Homo sapiens: one gene and its partner. The protein of the gene in region 1 interacts with the protein of each later gene in a pairwise test. Each region holds a gene or a part of one and is shown on either strand. Other genes may lie near its edges.

Evidence for each region.
Region 2: the proteins of CDKN2B (region 1) and PYCR3 interact in binary tests that used the Homo sapiens proteins (3 or more experiments, as listed by UniProt).

The regions. Positions count from the first base shown.
Region 1 is NC_000009.12:22,005,216-22,014,453, reverse strand, and holds the start of CDKN2B (cyclin-dependent kinase 4 inhibitor B), read left to right. Parts: upstream 1-5,148; 5' UTR 5,149-5,500; coding exon 5,501-5,656; coding exon of another isoform or gene 5,657-5,737; exon of another isoform or gene 5,738-5,779; intron 5,780-8,206; coding exon 8,207-8,467; 3' UTR 8,468-9,238. UniProt on the Homo sapiens protein: Interacts strongly with CDK4 and CDK6. Potent inhibitor. Potential effector of TGF-beta induced cell cycle arrest.
Region 2 is NC_000008.11:143,605,039-143,614,073, reverse strand, and holds the start of PYCR3 (pyrroline-5-carboxylate reductase 3), read left to right. Parts: upstream 1-4,498; 5' UTR 4,499-4,525; coding exon 4,526-4,616; intron 4,617-5,197; exon of another isoform or gene 5,198-5,310; intron 5,311-5,947; coding exon 5,948-6,012; intron 6,013-6,941; coding exon 6,942-7,121; intron 7,122-7,394; coding exon 7,395-7,607; intron 7,608-7,919; coding exon 7,920-8,012; intron 8,013-8,191; coding exon 8,192-8,374; 3' UTR 8,375-9,035. Other genes in the region: GFUS (GDP-L-fucose synthase), read left to right, coding at 257-323, 471-550, 779-878, 1,109-1,164.

The DNA of each region.
Region 1 (9,238 bases):
GTGGCTTATGTCTGTAATCCCAACACTTTGGGAGGCTGAAGCAGGAGGAGCTTAGGAGGCTGAGCCCAGTAGTTAGAGACCAGCCTGGGCAAAAAAGCAAGACCCTCATCTCTACAAAAAATTTAAAAATTAGCCAGGTGATGTGTGCCTGTAGTCCTAGCTATTGGGGAAGCTGAGGTGGGAGGATCACTTGAGCCTGGGAGTTGCAGGTTGCAGTGAGCTATGATCACACCACTGCACTCCAGCCTGGGTGACAGTGCAAGACTCTGTCTCAAATAATAAATAAATAAATAAATAATTTAAAAAGACATTCCAGCTAGTAAATGAAGGAATAGTAAAATTAGAATATCACCATTTTGCCATCCCCAAGAAAATAATAATCTATGAAATAATTATCCATGGCTGCTAGAATCACAGAAAGAGACAACCATATTATGTGTCTCTTGGTGAAAGTACGTAATCCCACTTATTAAATACTTTTGCCCAAATATCAAACCTGAATCACATACAGACTCTAGGCCTAAATAATAAGTTATGAGAAATACAAATGACAAAGAAAAATGTTAAGTGTCATTATAAAGAAGCATTCAGCAAAATCCAAGCTTTAGAAAACTACAGATAAAGCCAATTTCTGCAATAGATAAATTGAAAGAAAAAAAAAGAAGGCAAAAGGGGGAAACTGTAGATTAAGAGGAAACAAGACGCCAGGTGCAGTGGTTCACACTTGCAATCCAGCACTTTGGGGGGCCGAGGTGAAAGAATTGTGTGAGCCCAGGAGTTCGGGACCAGCCTGGGCCAGATGGCAAGACTTCATCTCTTCAAAAAAGTAAAAATATTAGCCAGTCATGGTGGCCAACACCTGTAGTCCCATCTACTCTGGAGGATGAGGCAGGAGCATCCCTTAAGCCCAGGAATTCGAGGCAGCAGTGACCCTTGCTCACAGTATTGCACTCCAGCCTGGTCGACAAGGTGAATGAAACCTGTCCCTTATAAGAAAAAAAAGAGAGAGAGAGAGATACAAGAGACTGTAGCAATTTCAACCAATTTCAATATCCTAGCCTTATTTTAATCCTTATTCAAATGAATAAATTATTAATAACAGTTTAAAAAGAAATGAAAAGTAAAATGTGTAAAAATTAAGATGCTGTTGTTATGGGTTAAATTCTGTCACCTCTAAATTTTTATATTAAAGTCCTAAGCCCAATACCTCACAATTTGACCGTATTTGGAAATAGAGCCCTTAAAGAAGTGACTAAGTTAAAATAAGGCCATTGGGGTGGGCCCTAATCCAATCTGACTGGTGTCCTCAAAAGAGGAGGAAATTTGGACACACACAAGAGATCCAGGGGCACGTGTGCACAGAGGGATGACTATGTGAAGAGGCAGCAGTAGGATGGCCATGTGCAAGTCAAGAAGAGAAGCCTCAGGAGAAGTTAAAACTCTGAGAAAATAAATATTTGTTGTTTAAGCTACTCAGTCTGTGGTATTCTGTTATGGCAGCCCTAGCAAACTAATACGGATACTAAAATGATGAACAAGTCCACCATTTAATTAATCTTGAAAAATACATGGGAATATAGAAGTGGATATACTGTGGATCACGGAGCAATAAACCCAACTCATAAAATGGAGAAAATCAAACCTCTTGGTGGGAAGGTGTGTTCATAAAAAATTTGAAAAAGCCCCAAAAGTGATTATGAATTTCCTTCTCTTCTCACTTATAAACACTATCTTAGTCCTAATCATATGCAAAAGTGTGCATAAATGAGGGCAAGGTTAGGTCGCTGTTTCTCTTGGCCAGTCAACCAGTTCTATTCATACTTTTTTTTTTTCCAGTCAATGAAAGGGACACTTTATTGAGGCTCCAGGGCCATGGGGCCTGGGCAGGAGGCTGCCCTCCGAGGAAGGAAGAGCCTTATTTGACCTTCTTGGGGTGCAGGTTGTTGGTGTGGCCACACTTCTTCTTGCGGCAATTGACAGCATAGGGGTGCAGGAGAGCATAGCGCTTATGGCAGATCATCTTGTTTCAGCTGTATTTCTAGGTGAGCTGGAAGAGTGAAGGCTCAATAATGCCACCTCGCAGGTGCAGCACCAGGTGCGGGGTGGGCTGTTTCTGGACGTTGTAGTCTGAGAGAGTGCGGCCATCCTCCAGCTGTTTGCTGGCAAATATCAGACGCTGCTTGTCAGGGGGGATACCCTCCTTGTCTTGAATTTTCGCACTGACATTCTCAATGGTGTCACTGGGCTCGACCTCAAGGGTGATGGTCTTGCCCGTGAGGGTCTTCACAAAGATCTGCATCTCTGTGTCTGCAGCTCGGCTGCCTCGCTGAAGAAAAAGAGGATGGCAGATCTGTTCATACTTCTATATCAAGGTCATATACAGACAATTTCACCAACTAGAATATAAAAATATTATTACTAGTGATCTGAGTTATGTGCAACATTGGAATGGATGCCACTCATTCCCTTCTACTGACCTCCAAAATTCTATGCCAATTTACCATTAACTTTCTCTTTCTTTCTTCTCAATTATAAATTCTCCACCTTATTAAAAGACATGGCTCTGACAATTCCAAGTTTCAGCTGCCCACTATGTTCCCATCCACTTCATCTTTTAAATGTGTTTAAAGCATTAACAACAGATTGTGTTTCACCCTAGAGACAGCTGGGTTTCAAGGAGAGGTAAAATGTTTCATAATCTCACTCTATTGTCCAAGACAAATGTGCTATTGTATTACATGTGAAATGTCATCTTTGAAGTCTGGTAAGGGTGTGCTGTGAGGTGAGCCATCTGGAAAACACAGTGTAGACTGAAAAATAATTATAAGCCAGTTTATTACTTTTTTCCAGTTAAGCCTACCATGACAGCTGCTAAAAAAAACACTATGTAGTATAAAGGGTAAAAAGACTCTGAAGTCGCAAAAGTTATACCCACCTCCAACAATGATTAGCTAGTATACAAGTCACTCAAATTCTCTGATCCTTTTGGCTTGTCTGTAAAATTGAAATATGGACACATGCCACAGAGGAGTTTTATGAGTATTAAATGAAACAACAGCTGTAAAGCACTTCGTACAGAGTACACAATAAGTTTGATTTCTCTTCTCGTCTTCTAAATATAGACTATATAATATTCTTTATACAGAGAATATTAGATAAAATCCAATCATATTTGAAAACCAGGTTGAGCAGGTTGGTTTTTCAAAGAAATTCATTGAGCTTCCATAATGTCCTTTCTATTTGACGGGAGAAAAGGGGCTTTGGAAGATCAAGTGTGAAGCTTTAGAATTCTGTCTGGAGCTGGTTAGGACCACCCAGGCCTGAGTATAAGCAAAGCGCTGTCCGTGGTGCTAGTAAGCGCGAATGCCCCCGGCAACGTTTTCCCTACCCAAAGTTGTTTTTCATTCAGTCAACTTGCTTCGCGAAGCTCACACATCTGCCTCGTGCAAGATTCTCAGTCATTTTACTTAGTCATTGGTTCTTTCCCTATCACCATTCTTTATGTCCCCCTCAAAGAAAAACATTATCTTCCATTTCCTTATCAACTCCAAACAGCTTTCATTTTTCTGACATATTTACTACCTAAGAAAATGGCTCAAGAATTGGGTCAGACTATCTTGTCCTAACTTTTCTGATAAGTTTCAGAGAAACTCAAAGGTCAAAACAAGAGCATAAGAGTAAAAGGTAGAGAAATTAAGAAACTGAAGACTAGGAAATGGGGGTTGGATGGGAAAGAAAAAGAAATTGTTATTAATGCTACCCGGTTCCCTTCCCTGTCCAGGTGGATTTCAGCTCTGTTGAGGCTCTGTCAGTAGATTTTCAGCCCTAACCAGCACTTCCATGGTGGTGGCACTTCCACTGCCTTTAAAAGAAAGAGCTTTTTTTAATTCTACAGGGATTTGGGGGATGAGGAGTCAGAGCTAAGGTATCCTAAAAAAAACATGTGAAGACTCTCATTTTGCAATACACAAGCAATTGCCCTCCTGTTAAGACTTTGTCTTCCTCAGCACTCCGAACCAAAATGATTCTGTAAACAAAAATTGTTCACTTTTAGGAGAGGTCCACTTATGCAGTTCCTCACCAAAGTTTTTAGGCAACAAATCCATAACTTGCGGTTCTCTTCCTATCCAATGTAGCATCCGCTGAAATGTTTTAAATATTTTAAGTAATAAATGTTGATTCAAACTCACCTAGGAAGATTAGGAAGGGGAAAAAAAGCACTTGGCATTTAAATCTTCAGAAGAGAATTTAATGACAGGTTCAGCCTGTTTAATGACAAGCCCAGCACCACACCCCTCTCTTATGATGTTTCATTATTACTGCATAAATTTCCTTTATTACTCATGATAAATAAAAATAAGATACCTGACAAAGTGGGTTTAAATAGGTAAGAGTGCAAACAAAGATTTACTGTACAAATATGATGAAACTGGGATCTCAGATTCTTAAAGTATAATTTTTTTTTGTCTTATGTGTGCCAGGTTGCCACTCTCAATCTCGAACTAGTTTTTTTCTCTTTTAAGGGTTGTATCCATAATGCAAAAATGGAAAGAATTAAAAAGCACACGCAAAACATGATTCTCGGGATTTTTCTCTATTTTTATGGTTGACTAATTCAAACAGAAAGACACATCCAAGAGAAAATTGCTAAGTTTGATACAAGTTATGAAACTTGTGAAGCCCAAGTACTGCCTGGGGATGAATTTAACTTGTATGACAGGTGCAGAGCTGTCGCTTTCAGACATCTTAAGAAACACGGAGTTATTTTGAATGACTTTCTCTCGGTCACAAGGGAGCCACCAACGTCTCCACAGTGAAACCAACTGGCTGGCTGAAGGAACAGAAATCCTCTGCTCCGCCTACTGGGGATTAGGAGCTGAGGGCAGTGGTGAACATTCCCAAAATATTAGCCTTGGCTTTACTGGACATCCAGCGAGCAGTGCAGCCAGCATTCCTGGCGGCTCCCTGGCCCAGTCTCTGGCGCATGCGTCCTAGCATCTTTGGGCAGGCTTCCCCGCCCTCGTGACGCGTCGGCCCGGGCCTGGCCTCCCGGCGATCACAGCGGACAGGGGGCGGAGCCTAAGGGGGTGGGGAGACGCCGGCCCCTTGGCCCAGCTGAAAACGGAATTCTTTGCCGGCTGGCTCCCCACTCTGCCAGAGCGAGGCGGGGCAGTGAGGACTCCGCGACGCGTCCGCACCCTGCGGCCAGAGCGGCTTTGAGCTCGGCTGCGTCCGCGCTAGGCGCTTTTTCCCAGAAGCAATCCAGGCGCGCCCGCTGGTTCTTGAGCGCCAGGAAAAGCCCGGAGCTAACGACCGGCCGCTCGGCCACTGCACGGGGCCCCAAGCCGCAGAAGGACGACGGGAGGGTAATGAAGCTGAGCCCAGGTCTCCTAGGAAGGAGAGAGTGCGCCGGAGCAGCGTGGGAAAGAAGGGAAGAGTGTCGTTAAGTTTACGGCCAACGGTGGATTATCCGGGCCGCTGCGCGTCTGGGGGCTGCGGAATGCGCGAGGAGAACAAGGGCATGCCCAGTGGGGGCGGCAGCGATGAGGGTCTGGCCAGCGCCGCGGCGCGGGGACTAGTGGAGAAGGTGCGACAGCTCCTGGAAGCCGGCGCGGATCCCAACGGAGTCAACCGTTTCGGGAGGCGCGCGATCCAGGTAGCTGGGGCCCCAGGGCCTCGCCGGCAGGGGGCGCGCGAACGCGGGGCGCGGCCTCGGCGGATCGGGGCTGGAACCTAGATCGCCGATGTAGATTTGTACAGGAGTCTCCGTTGGCCGGAGGTGTGCATTCCACGCGTAAAACAGGCTTTTACCCAGCAAAAATCCTAAAGAGAGACATTGAAAAACCCACTGTTTAAGCTTTTTTTAGTGGTTTTTGTTCTGCCATCTCATGATCAGAGATGCAAGGAATAGACTGAATTGGGGAGAAAAGGAGAAAAGGAAAGCTTATTTAGGGAAGAAGATTATCTTGTCTGTCTGCTTTCAACGATAAAGATAAGTAAAGTATAAGTTACGCATTCTAGATTGGATTTAAGGAATTCTACAAAATCATAGTACATGGAAAAAATCAATGTAAACTTCTAAGCTACTATATGAAATCTGTTGTATTGTTTTCTCATAGAGGTTAATTGAGAATGAGACGGGATTCCTCAACCACAGTACTTAGTTCCTTTTATGTTAGCAGTGTCTTATGAGTGATGCATAAGAGAAAAAATATATAGTTCTATAGGTTTCTCATTCTTTAATTATCATACTCAGTGCCCAGATTACAAAAATATTCCTGCAGCAACTGTTAGGTCCTTTTTGAATGGCAAAGGATCTTCATAAATAATGCATCTTTATCTTCATTGTTAAAATACACTTATTCAATGTTTAAGTACGAATCCTGCTTTAATTAGTACTGATATTTTTTATTTCTTTTACAATCTCGGACAACTCTTTTGTACTTTACCGTTGGCTAGTGGTCATATTCAGTACTCACCTCACTATCACCCTCTAAAACTAAGCTAATATTAAGGGATCTTGTTAATAGTATAGATTTTAAAGAAGTGTTCATTTCTTTTGAATTCTTAGAATAATGGTATAACAAATGAGGGATTTTTAAAGGAGCAAAAATATTGTAAAGTGCATCTTAAAAACTTAAAATTTTATTAATAATTATAAAAACAAGTTATATATGTAATTCACCATTTTCTGAAATACTAACAGCAGCTATTTTCCCCTTTTTTTCTATGTAAAATATCCTTACATCACTAGTAGATATAACTTATCACGGTTTTTAAGAGATGAAATGAACATTTCTAATATTAATGAAACAAGCCAACAAAACATGAGAAGTATACTGCCTTTCAATTAAATGGTATATTTTAAAGTGCATAAACCCATAACAAATAACTCGATTTTAGACATTTAGTTACCAAAAATTGTCTTATAATTGACTTTAAATATGACAGCAAATGTTTTCATAATGTTCATGTACACAAATGGCTGCTACAGGATTACTCCTGCAAAACATCATTTTTTCTAAGTTATGCATCATCCTGATTGACTGCTAACATCCAAGCTCTATTTATTTATTTATTTATTTTATTTTTTTTGAGATGAGGCCTCACTCTGTCGGACAGGCTGGAGTGCAGTGGCACAATCTCAGCTCACTGCAACCTCTTCCAGGATGCAAGCGATTCTCCTGCCTCAGCCTCCTGAGTTGCTGGGACTACAGGCACGCCCCACCATGCCCAGCTAATTTTTTATTTTTTGTAGTAGAGACGGGATTTCACCATGTTGGCCAGGCTGGTCTCGAACTCCTGACCTCAGGTGATCTGCCTGCTATGGCCTCCCAAAGTGCTGGGATTACAGGCATAAGCCACTGGGCCTGGCCCAAGCTCTTTTTATATAGCAAAATATTTACTGTTTAACATTTTTAAATCTTAGCTATTATAAAATCCTGTAGTATACAAATATAGTTAGTTTTATATTACATTAAAAATATTATAGTCTAAATTTAAAATGATGAACTGTTAAGGAAAAATCATTTATTATAATTTTATAAGATTTTGCATGATTTAATTTACTTTTCCCTTCTAATCTCCAACTTTGGCTCAAATTATCACACTACAAGCCAGTTATGAGCTCAGACACATGACAAACAAAAGCCTTCCGCACGGGATTTGCTATGAGAACTAAATAAATTAAAAAAAAAAGAAAGAAAAAAACTTAGTTGTTTATTTTCTCCCCTAAACCATTACTCCCAACTTCTAACAAACAGTAGTTGACTACCTAATAAATATTTGTAGACCTGGATTATGGAGGAGGGGTCAGCAAGGCAAATAATTTAAAACTTTAAAAGCCGAATAAATTTAACTCTGCCCCTAAATCATTTAACAAAATAGATTCCCATGTTCCAATGGAAATCAAGATTTGTTTTTCCATAATGATGATCATCACTTTACCATCAACTTTCTTGTCTCTGCACGTTTAGAGAATAAAATGGCATTTAATTTGTACTGAGTATAACCTGAAGGTGGGGTGGGAAAGTGGATTGCATCAGCAAATGAAGAAACACCAGACATCAGAGACCTGAACACCTCTGCACTGGGTGAAAACTTTGCAATTAGGTGTTTCTTTAAATGGCTCCACCTGCCTTGCCCCGGCCGGCATCTCCCATACCTGCCCCCACCCTGGCTCTGACCACTCTGCTCTCTCTGGCAGGTCATGATGATGGGCAGCGCCCGCGTGGCGGAGCTGCTGCTGCTCCACGGCGCGGAGCCCAACTGCGCAGACCCTGCCACTCTCACCCGACCGGTGCATGATGCTGCCCGGGAGGGCTTCCTGGACACGCTGGTGGTGCTGCACCGGGCCGGGGCGCGGCTGGACGTGCGCGATGCCTGGGGTCGTCTGCCCGTGGACTTGGCCGAGGAGCGGGGCCACCGCGACGTTGCAGGGTACCTGCGCACAGCCACGGGGGACTGACGCCAGGTTCCCCAGCCGCCCACAACGACTTTATTTTCTTACCCAATTTCCCACCCCCACCCACCTAATTCGATGAAGGCTGCCAACGGGGAGCGGCGGAAAGCCTGTAAGCCTGCAAGCCTGTCTGAGACTCACAGGAAGGAGGAGCCGACCGGGAATAACCTTCCATACATTTTTTTCTTTGTCTTATCTGGCCCTCGACACTCACCATGAAGCGAAACACAGAGAAGCGGATTTCCAGGGATATTTAGGAGTGTGTGACATTCCAGGGGTCGTTTGCTTTTCAGGGTTTTCTGAGGGAAAGTGCATATGAAATCCTTGACTGGACCTGGTGGCTACGAATCTTCCGATGGATGAATCTCCCACTCCAGCGCTGAGTGGGAGAAGGCAGTGATTAGCACTTGGGTGACGGCAGTCGATGCGTTCACTCCAATGTCTGCTGAGGAGTTATGGTGAACCCACAACTTAGGCCCTAGCGGCAGAAAGGAAAACCTGAAGACTGAGGACAAAGTGGAGGAGGGCCGAGGTGGGCTTCAGTAAGTCCCCGGCGGCGCTTTAGTTTGAGCGCATGGCAAGTCACATGCGTAAACGACACTCTCTGGAAGCCCTGGAGACCCTCGCCCAACTCCACCAGATAGCAGAGGGGTAAGAGAGGATGTGCAAGCGACGACAGATGCTAAAATCCCTGGATCACGACGCTGCAGAGCACCTTTGCACAGGATGCTGGCCTTTGCTCTTACTACACTGAGGAGAGATTCCCGCGGGTTCCGC
Region 2 (9,035 bases), on another chromosome or scaffold:
GAGGGAGGCTCCTACCAGCAGAGAATCTGGGCTGAGCTCCAAGAGGAGCCATCTCTGGTCCTCGTGGAGGCCCCATAGGCTCCTGTCTCCAGGAGTCACTGGCGTAGCTCTGAGCTCCAAGGGAGAAAGGAGGGACCCCTGTTCCCCAGGCTGAGCCCCCACTGAACAAGGACAGCAGTATGGACTCCCCAGCAGGGGCGTTTGGGAGAGGGTTGGCTATACCCATGGTCTCTGACCCTGCCTGTCTGACCTCTAGGACCTGGCCCAGCTCTTTATCTGGGTCCTGCGGGAGTACAATGAAGTGGAGCCCATCATCCTCTCCGGTGGGTACCTCAGCCCTCAGCCCCCTTCCTCCATGGTAGGACAGGATCCAAGGTTGTCCTGGGAGGCTGGCTGAGGGGTGGGAGCAGGAATATTCATGGGCCGTCGGGTGGCACCAAGGGGAGGCCTGACCCGGTGGCTCCCCACAGTGGGCGAGGAAGATGAGGTCTCCATCAAGGAGGCAGCCGAGGCGGTGGTGGAGGCCATGGACTTCCATGGGGAAGTCACCGTATCCTCTGGCTCCAGTGCTGGGGGTTGGGCGGGGGCCCCTTGGGCGGGCTCAGTGGCCACCCGGTGTAGGGCCAGCGTGGGTGGGACACTGCGGAGGGAGGATGCTCACCCTGGCAGGCGGAGGAGCTCTGCTGTGGCTCCCCTGGGAATGGCAGAGGTTCAAGGGCAAGCTGCGGGGGCTGGGGTGGAGGTGCTCTTCTCGCTGTGGCCTTGACAAAGCCTCCAGTTTGATACAACCAAGTCGGATGGGCAGTTTAAGAAGACAGCCAGTAACAGCAAGCTGAGGACCTACCTGCCCGACTTCCGGTTCACACCCTTCAAGCAGGGTGAGCCCTGACCCCACAGCCCTCCACTTGGTGGAGGCCTGCCCCAGCCCCTCCCTCATGCTCGCTACCAGGGCAGAGGTGAGGTGCCCCCTCAGAGCCTGTACTGCCCTGGAGGTGGGACACCAAAGCTCTGAGGGGTGACTTCCCTGTCCCTGGGCCTCCTCCCCCCACTTCCTCCCATGCGGCCCCGACCCTCCCTGTCCATGGCCCTCACCTGCCTGCCTCTGCAGCGGTGAAGGAGACCTGTGCTTGGTTCACTGACAACTACGAGCAGGCCCGGAAGTGAAGCTGGAAGACAGGATCAGGTGCCAGCGGACCATCGGCTGGCAGAGCCCAGCGGCCACCACCCGTCAACCCTGCCAGGAGCTGAGGGCACCACCCAGCAACCTGGGCCTGCATTCCATCCGCTCTGCAGCCCCAAGCATCTTTCCAGTGGGGCCCCCATTCACGTTGGTCCTCAGGGAAACCAGGGTCCCGGGCAGGCCCGGCGCTTTGCTCCCCACACCAGCCCCCTGCGCGTGTCCACTCTGATCCTGCATCCCACTCCCTGGGAGCCAATAAAGTGCATTTTCACAGGCCTGGCCTTGGCAGCTCTGTGCTGAGCCGTCCCCCACACCCAGGGACTGCCCCCTAGCCTGGCCAGTCCCAGGACCCACTATCCCCCTGGCTTACTGTTCAGCCCCCAAGAGCTGGTGACTCCCTGGGGTGGAAAGGCCGCAGAGGCTGGAGATGGGAAGGCACACGTGGGCAGGCAGCAGGCAGGCAGCAGTGAGACTGGTGTGGACTGTCAGCTGGACAAGGATGTGCAGGGCAGGGCCAGTCCCAGCCCCTCCACATGTGGCCACCTGCAGGCCTGAGTAACTTGAGCTCACCCGGACCTCCCTGCCTCAGCCTGAGGGCTCTGGGGAAGCTGGTCTAGTGGGCCAGAAACGTCTAGTGAGCCAGCCGAGCTGAGCCCATGGATGGATATGAGGGGAGGCTGATGATTGGGTGGCTCGGGCTTCCCCTGGCCTGGCCCCTCCTCTCTGTGGCTCTCAGGCTTGGGCGTGGGTCCCCCACCTGGCCTTATCCCATGGAGAGGGACAGGTGCCTGCTGGACAGGTCAGCTCCAGCCACCAGAGGTGGGGTGTCATTGCTCGCCGCCCCCGTCCATTCTCAGAGGGGAGACAGCAAAGTCCAGAATGGTTCCCGGGCCAGTGCCTCAGCCAGGCAGGGTGGCGCTGGGGTATGGACCAGGAGCACTGGGCTCCAGGCCCCGGCTTGCCCGTCGCCCCCTTTCTCAGTGCCTCTCACAGAGGGAGCCCCTATGCCAGAACCCTCTGGTCCACTGCATCCAGGACCCAGATGCCCTCCCTGGCTCCTGGCCCAACTCTGGGCCCACGTCCTCAGGGTCCCTCTCCTGGGCGCCCTGTGCCGTCTTCACGCACATGATGCCTTTTGGCTGCAGGTAGGACCTGCTGCTTCACTTCTTCGTTCATTCCGGCAGCGGTGATGTGTCCTCCCTGTCCCGGCACTGAGTCCAGACCGGTGTGTCCTGCACCCAGCCAACCGCTCACCTCATCTCTCACTGTCCCTTTGTGTCCAGCAAGCCGAGGTGTCCTCCAGGCCTCCCCTGAGACTGGCCCCCTCTTGGGTCAAGGCCTCCCTACCTTTTAGGCCTCAGCTGAGGTGGCCCAGCCTCCAAAACACCTTCCCTGATGGCACCTTCACAGCGCCTCTCGGAGCATCCACCCTGCCCTGCTGGGATTGTTTGTCTGGAAACCTCTGGGAGCCCCGCCTCAACCCCTAACCCTCCCGCTGACACCCCAGGACCTCGAGCTCCAGGAGACGGGTTGGCCTCGTTCACAGTGTATCCCCTGGCCCCAGCCCTTTGTGGATAAAGGCTCTGCCCATGTGGGGGTTCAGGAAAGGCCTCCTGGAGAGGGTGGCGCCTATGTGGCTGCTTGGATCCACCAGGTGAACAGTGGGAAGAAGCCCAGCCAAGAGCAGAGAGGTGCCCTGGACACAAGCCTTGGCTGGCTGGGTGTCCACGTCAGCTGAGGGCTCCCAGCTGATGCTCAGAAGCCCAGCCCGGCATGGGACGGAGAAGCTGAACGGGGCTGGGCCCCTGGGCCTCCTTTTACCCACTGTGGCCCTGGGCACTCAGCCAGCAATCCTCCTTCACCTCGCCTCAGTCCACTTGTTTATGATGAGCTTTGTCCTTATGTATGATGGCATGGCACTGGATGCCTCTGGCCCCTCTCACCTCCCCACAGCCTTGGTCCTGAGCCATCACTGGCCCAGGGGGCCTGGGAGAAAATCCAGGGAGTCTGTGGGAAGGGGCTGGGAGGATCCGAGGTGGCAGGAGATACAGCTGCTGACGCTGTGTGCTGGTGCAAAGTGTCCACCACCCACGTTTCTCGGCTGCAGTGGCCGAAGCAGCCTCCTGGTGGCTTTCTGTCCCTTTCCACCTCATTTGCTTCAGAGCCTTGACACACTGGCTGTCCTGCGTGTGTGCTGACTGTAGTCTGTCTACACTGCCACCAAGCAGGGCTGCAGGGTGGGGTCCAGCCTGTCCCATCTGCTGCCGTGGGGTGATCTTGCCCAGGCCCAGAGCAGGGCCCAGAGGCTGCAGCTGCACAGTGAATGTTGAATCAATGAGAGGATTTCATTACTGAAGAGCTTAGAAAATGTCAAAGGCTTGGGCCGGCACGGTGGCTCACGCCTGTAATCCCAGCACTTTGGGAGGCCGAGGCAGGTGGATCACGAGGTCAGGAGATTGAGACCATCCTGGCTAACAAGGTGAAACCCCATCTCTACTAAAAATACAAAAAAATAAGCCGGGCGTGGTGGCGGTCGCCTATAGTCCCAGCTACTTGGGAGGCTGAGGCAGGAGAATGGCGTGAACCCGGGAGACGGAGCTTGCAGCGAGCCCAGATGGCGCCACTGCACTCCAGCCTGGGCGACAGAGCGAGACTCCGTCTCAAAAAAAAGAAAAAAGAAAATGTCAAAGGCTTCAAAAGAAAATAACATATGTAACATGCAGCTTTAGATTGGATGATGAAAAAACCGCACTCAGATCTTCAAGCCTTGTTTTCCTTGTGTCATTAAAAGTGACGAGTACCCCCTCCCCGACTGTCCCCTCCGTCGGTCTCAGGCCCCTGGCCCTGGCCTGCTCTCCGTGACCTGGGTCTCCGCCCCTAGTGCTTCCCCGCAGCTCCACCGTCTGTGGTCGGCGGGGCCTCAGTGACCGCACGCTCTGGACCAGCCCCGCAACCCGCTTCGCTACCCCTCCCCTCCGGAAAACCAACATGTGCTCCTCGCACGCGCGACCGGGACCCCTCCCCGCTCCTCCGGCCTCTCCGAGCGCGAGTACCCCGCCGGCCCCGCCCCTTACGGCCCCGCCCCCAGTTTCTCTCAGCCAATGGGCAGTGAGGGGCGGCATAGCCCTTTCGGGCCAATAAGCAGCGAGAGGCGGGGTTCCCGCGCCTTGCGAACTTGTAGAGTGCGGACAAAAAGCCGGCCGGAGTGTGCCGTCCCAGTAACCAATCGGCGAGGGTGGGGACGGGGAGGCGAGTCCTATTGGAGGGCGGGGGTGGGGCCTAGATCTGTGGGCGGGGCGCGGCCTGTGGATGGGCGGTGAGCGCAGCGGCGTCCGAGGCAACAAGATGGCAGCTGCGGAGCCGTCTCCGCGGCGCGTGGGCTTCGTGGGCGCGGGCCGCATGGCGGGGGCCATCGCGCAGGGCCTCATCAGAGCAGGTGGGGCGGCGCGGGGCTAGGCCTGCGGTCTGGAGTGGGAGCAGCCCCGTGGGAGGTGTCCTGCCGCGAGAGTGGGGCCGGGGGCGCGGGCCCAGCCAACCGGGTCTCCGCTCCGCTGGGCGCAGCCGGGGCCACGCCTGTTTGCTCTTACTTTTTTGACGTGGCTGCGGGAAGATTTGAGTCACACGTGGCTAGGTGCCGCTTCCGTGGCCGGCTTCCTGGCCGCGTGGCCTTGGCCAGGCTCACCTCTTCCAGCCTCTGATTTTCTCTTTGCGCGCCAGCCCCTCTCATGGGGAGCAGCAGGGCTTCTCCCCCAGACACCTTGGCTCTAGGGACACCTGGGCCAGACTATCCATCCTGTGCCAGCAGCACCCCCACGTTGTGACAGCCAAAAATGCCTCCAGACACTGCCGAATGTCCCCTGGGTGGGGGGAGGAGACAGGCAAAATCATCCCCTGTTGAGAAACACTGCTTTATACCCGGAATATTTATGCTGACCATATACTCCTCCAGGCATTTAGAAGCCTCTCTGCAGATTGTGGATAGGGAGAGCTGGGTGACTTTTGACTCTCTGCCTTCAGCCATACTTCAGGGTCCAGAAGAGTCAAGATCAATCGGGAAATAGCTTACTATGAGTCTCAGGAGTCTTCCCTGTGAAACCTGGCAGTACCGCATGCCTCCCAGAGCTGTACAGGTTAAATGAGACATAAATGTCTAGTGTTGAGCTTAGTACTGGTGTGTTTGGCTGCCACTGTCATGATTAATTGCTGTGTTCAGGTTGTGGTGTACACTTGTGCCTTCCTGTTCGACCTTACCAAAATCTAACCCAATCTTTCCACCCCGTACCCGACAAAAGCAGATAATTTCTACCAAGTAGGCATTTAGCCTTTTCTTAGACATTCCAGCATAGACTCTCCCTCTCGAAGAACCTGGGCCCCGATTGGGCCTTCTGTGGCCAATCAACTGCCTTTGTACCCACCACATTCCCCCAAGGCCTGGTGTTCCTCCAGAGGTACTGCCTCTTCTGCTCCAGGCAGCCTTCCCTTCCCTGGAGGCAGAGGCCCCAGGGATCTGTGTCCTCACCAATGAGGTAAGCTCCTGGCCTCCATACCCAGCAGCAGTCAGGGGCGTTGACCGCCAAGTAGAATCAGTGGATCTGATTGCCTGGGCCCAGTGAATGGTGCATCCCGCTTTGGGTTCCTGGGGCCAGGAGGGGGCCCAGGATGGGCCAGGCGTGGCTGAGCCTGAGAGGCCAAGTGAGCTCCCTCTCCTCTCCGTGCCATCCTATCCCACCCCTTCACCAACCCCTCTTCCTTTTCCTTTCTTTCCAGGAAAAGTGGAAGCTCAGCACATACTGGCCAGTGCACCAACAGACAGGAACCTATGTCACTTTCAAGTGAGCATAGAGCCCAGGTTCTTCATACCCTCAGGAGCCCAGGATAGCTCTTGGCTCCTGTCCCACTAAGACACTTATCAGAGCCAGGGATGGGTGGTTTATTTAGCTGAAGTTTGCAGACTGGCTGGTCTGGGCTGGGAAAAGGGAGATTAGAGGCCAGGAGGAAAGTAAGGTTGTGGAGGGCCAAAGCAAAGTGTTTGTGTGTGTGTGTGTATGCATGTGTGAGTGCATGTCCGTGAGTGTGTGTATATGCACGTGTGTATATGTGAGGCTATGCGTGTGCATGTGTGTATGTATGTGCTCATGTGCGTTTGCACGTGCGCTTGTGTGTGCGTGTGCACGTGTGGTGAGTGCATGTATGTCAGTGCATGTGTGTGCGTGTGTGTATGAGTGCATGCTCATGAGTGCATGTGCACCTGTGTGGTCGTGAGTGCACGTATGTGCTTGTGCATGTGTGCCTGTGCAGATGTGTATATGAGTGCGTGTGTGCGTGTATGAGTGCGTGCGTGTACACATGAGTGCATGCTCGAGTGGGTGTGTGTGCATGTGTTTGTGCTCATGAGTGCATTCATGTGTACATGTGTATGTATGCTCGTGAGTGCATGTGTCTGCGTGTGTGTATATGAATGCATGCTCGTGAGTGCGTGCATGTGCATGGGTGTGTTTGCATGCTGGGTGGTGGTCACAGACATTCACTGGGGATGGAGGGCTCAGGGCTTGGGGAGGCGCTGACATCAGGATGGCCTGTGAGGAGTAGGGCTAGTCTGGGGGAGTCTTGGGCACTGGAGAAGTCGGGGTGGTCTAGACACTTGCAATGGGAGAGGCCCTGGGACCATGGGAACGTGTGGCATCCAGCAGGAAGGGCTGTGATGGAGAGGGTGCGCCGCTTACATGGCCCCTGAGGCTTGGTCCTGGTGTCCCTGGCGCAGGCTCTGGGTTGCCGGACCACGCACTCCAACCAGGAGGTGCTGCAGAGCTGCCTGCTCGTCATCTTTGCCACCAAGCCTCATGTGCTGCCAGCTGTCCTGGCAGAGGTGGCTCCTGTGGTCACCACTGAACACATCTTGGTGTCCGTGGCTGCTGGGGTGTCTCTGAGCACCCTGGAGGAGGTGAGTGTCCCTTGGGCTAAGGCCTTGGTCCCAGTATAGGCTCTGCTGGCCAGGCTTGGGCGGCAGGCAGCCCCCCAGAGAGCCTGAGAGGTGGCCGTGTGGCCCACCTGGATCAAGTGGCTGGATTTAGGGTTCCCTCCTGGTGCTGTACCTGGGAGGCAGACGCTGGAGCCCACCGCGAGCTGACGTGGACCTTTCCTGAGGCCCCTGCTGGGGCCTGCCCAGCAGGGCCCAGTCCTACAGACTCCCTGATTCTGACCTCTCTCTGGCCAGCTGCTGCCCCCAAACACACGGGTGCTGCGGGTCTTGCCCAACCTGCCCTGTGTGGTCCAGGAAGGGGCCATAGTGATGGCGCGGGGCCGCCACGTGGGGAGCAGCGAGACCAAGCTCCTGCAGCATCTGCTGGAGGCCTGTGGGCGGTGTGAGGAGGTGCCTGAAGCCTACGTCGACATCCACACTGGCCTCAGTGGCAGTGGCGTGGCCTTCGTGAGTATTGCCTCGTCCATCCCCGGCCCCACCCTCGGCAAAGAGGGGGCCCACCCCAGTCCCTCTGACAGCCTCTGCCCTCAGAGTCCAACCTTGAGGCCTGCGTGGTTGCTCCCCAGGCCCACTGGGAGCTCTGCTTGTCCCCGGGACTTCACTGCCTTGGGGATCTTTGAGGCCAGCCCCTTTGCAGACCGTTGGGCTCAGGCCTTGGTTCTGGCCACCCACGGCTACTGCTCTGGGCATTGTTCCTGAAGGTCCTGAGCCCCCAGGCTTTGACACCTATCCCCCCCAACCACCATGCCGCGGCTACAGGTGTGTGCATTCTCCGAGGCCCTGGCTGAAGGAGCCGTCAAGATGGGCATGCCCAGCAGCCTGGCCCACCGCATCGCTGCCCAGACCCTGCTGGTGAGTGAGGGTGGCCCCTGGGGAACATCGGGAAGGCCCAGGCCTGTACCTCTTCCAGTGCGCAGGGAAACAGCAGGCTCGAGAAGCTGGGGCCAAGGTTGGGGGATGCAACGAGGGCAGGCCGCACAGTGGGGACCGCACCACCTCCCCCCGTCACCAGGCCCTAACGCTCTCCTCAGGGGACGGCCAAGATGCTGCTGCACGAGGGCCAACACCCAGCCCAGCTGCGCTCAGACGTGTGCACCCCGGGTGGCACCACCATCTATGGACTCCACGCCCTGGAGCAGGGCGGGCTGCGAGCAGCCACCATGAGCGCCGTGGAGGCTGCCACCTGCCGGGCCAAGGAGCTCAGCAGAAAGTAGGCTGGGCTCTGGCCATCCTTTCCTGCCTCTGTGCCCCTGCCTCTCCCTGTGTCCCTTCCCCTGAGGACTGCGGCTCCCTCCCTCCTGCATGAGGGTCTCCTACTGCTCCTTCTCCCCTTGCACAGGGAAATGCAGGGGGCAGGACTTGGGAGGTTCCAGCAGGCGGGGGAGCCCCGACCAGTGGGGACACTCCTCCCTCCCCAGTGAGCAGAAGGCACCGTGGTGGTGGCTCTGCCCCTTGCTGCAGTGAGCCCACCTTGCTGCAACATTGGTTCTGAGGGGCCCAAGAGATGGCGTCTTGGTCATTTGCCCGCATGGTTGGGCAGTTGGTTGAGGCCATGAACAGAACTTACGGTAACAGGCACGGCTGGCCCAATGCCTGGTCTGGAGCTGGAGCTTGCCTTTGGCTTTCCAGGTGGCTCCGTGCAGCTACAGCCAGGCCGGCTGCCTCATCTCAGCTCTAGGGGGCACGAGCCATATGGGGTCTGCACAAGAGACCCTCTCCCCTGCAGTAAAGCCAGGGGCCCTGGCCTGATGGGGCCCCCATGGGGAGCTGGAGCCTGCCCTGCAGCCTGGAGAAGAGGGTGGCTGTGGTGGGCGTGCTCATCCCCTGCTAAGGAGCAGGAGCTGCTGGGCCAGGTCTGCGGCAGTGCTGGGGTGG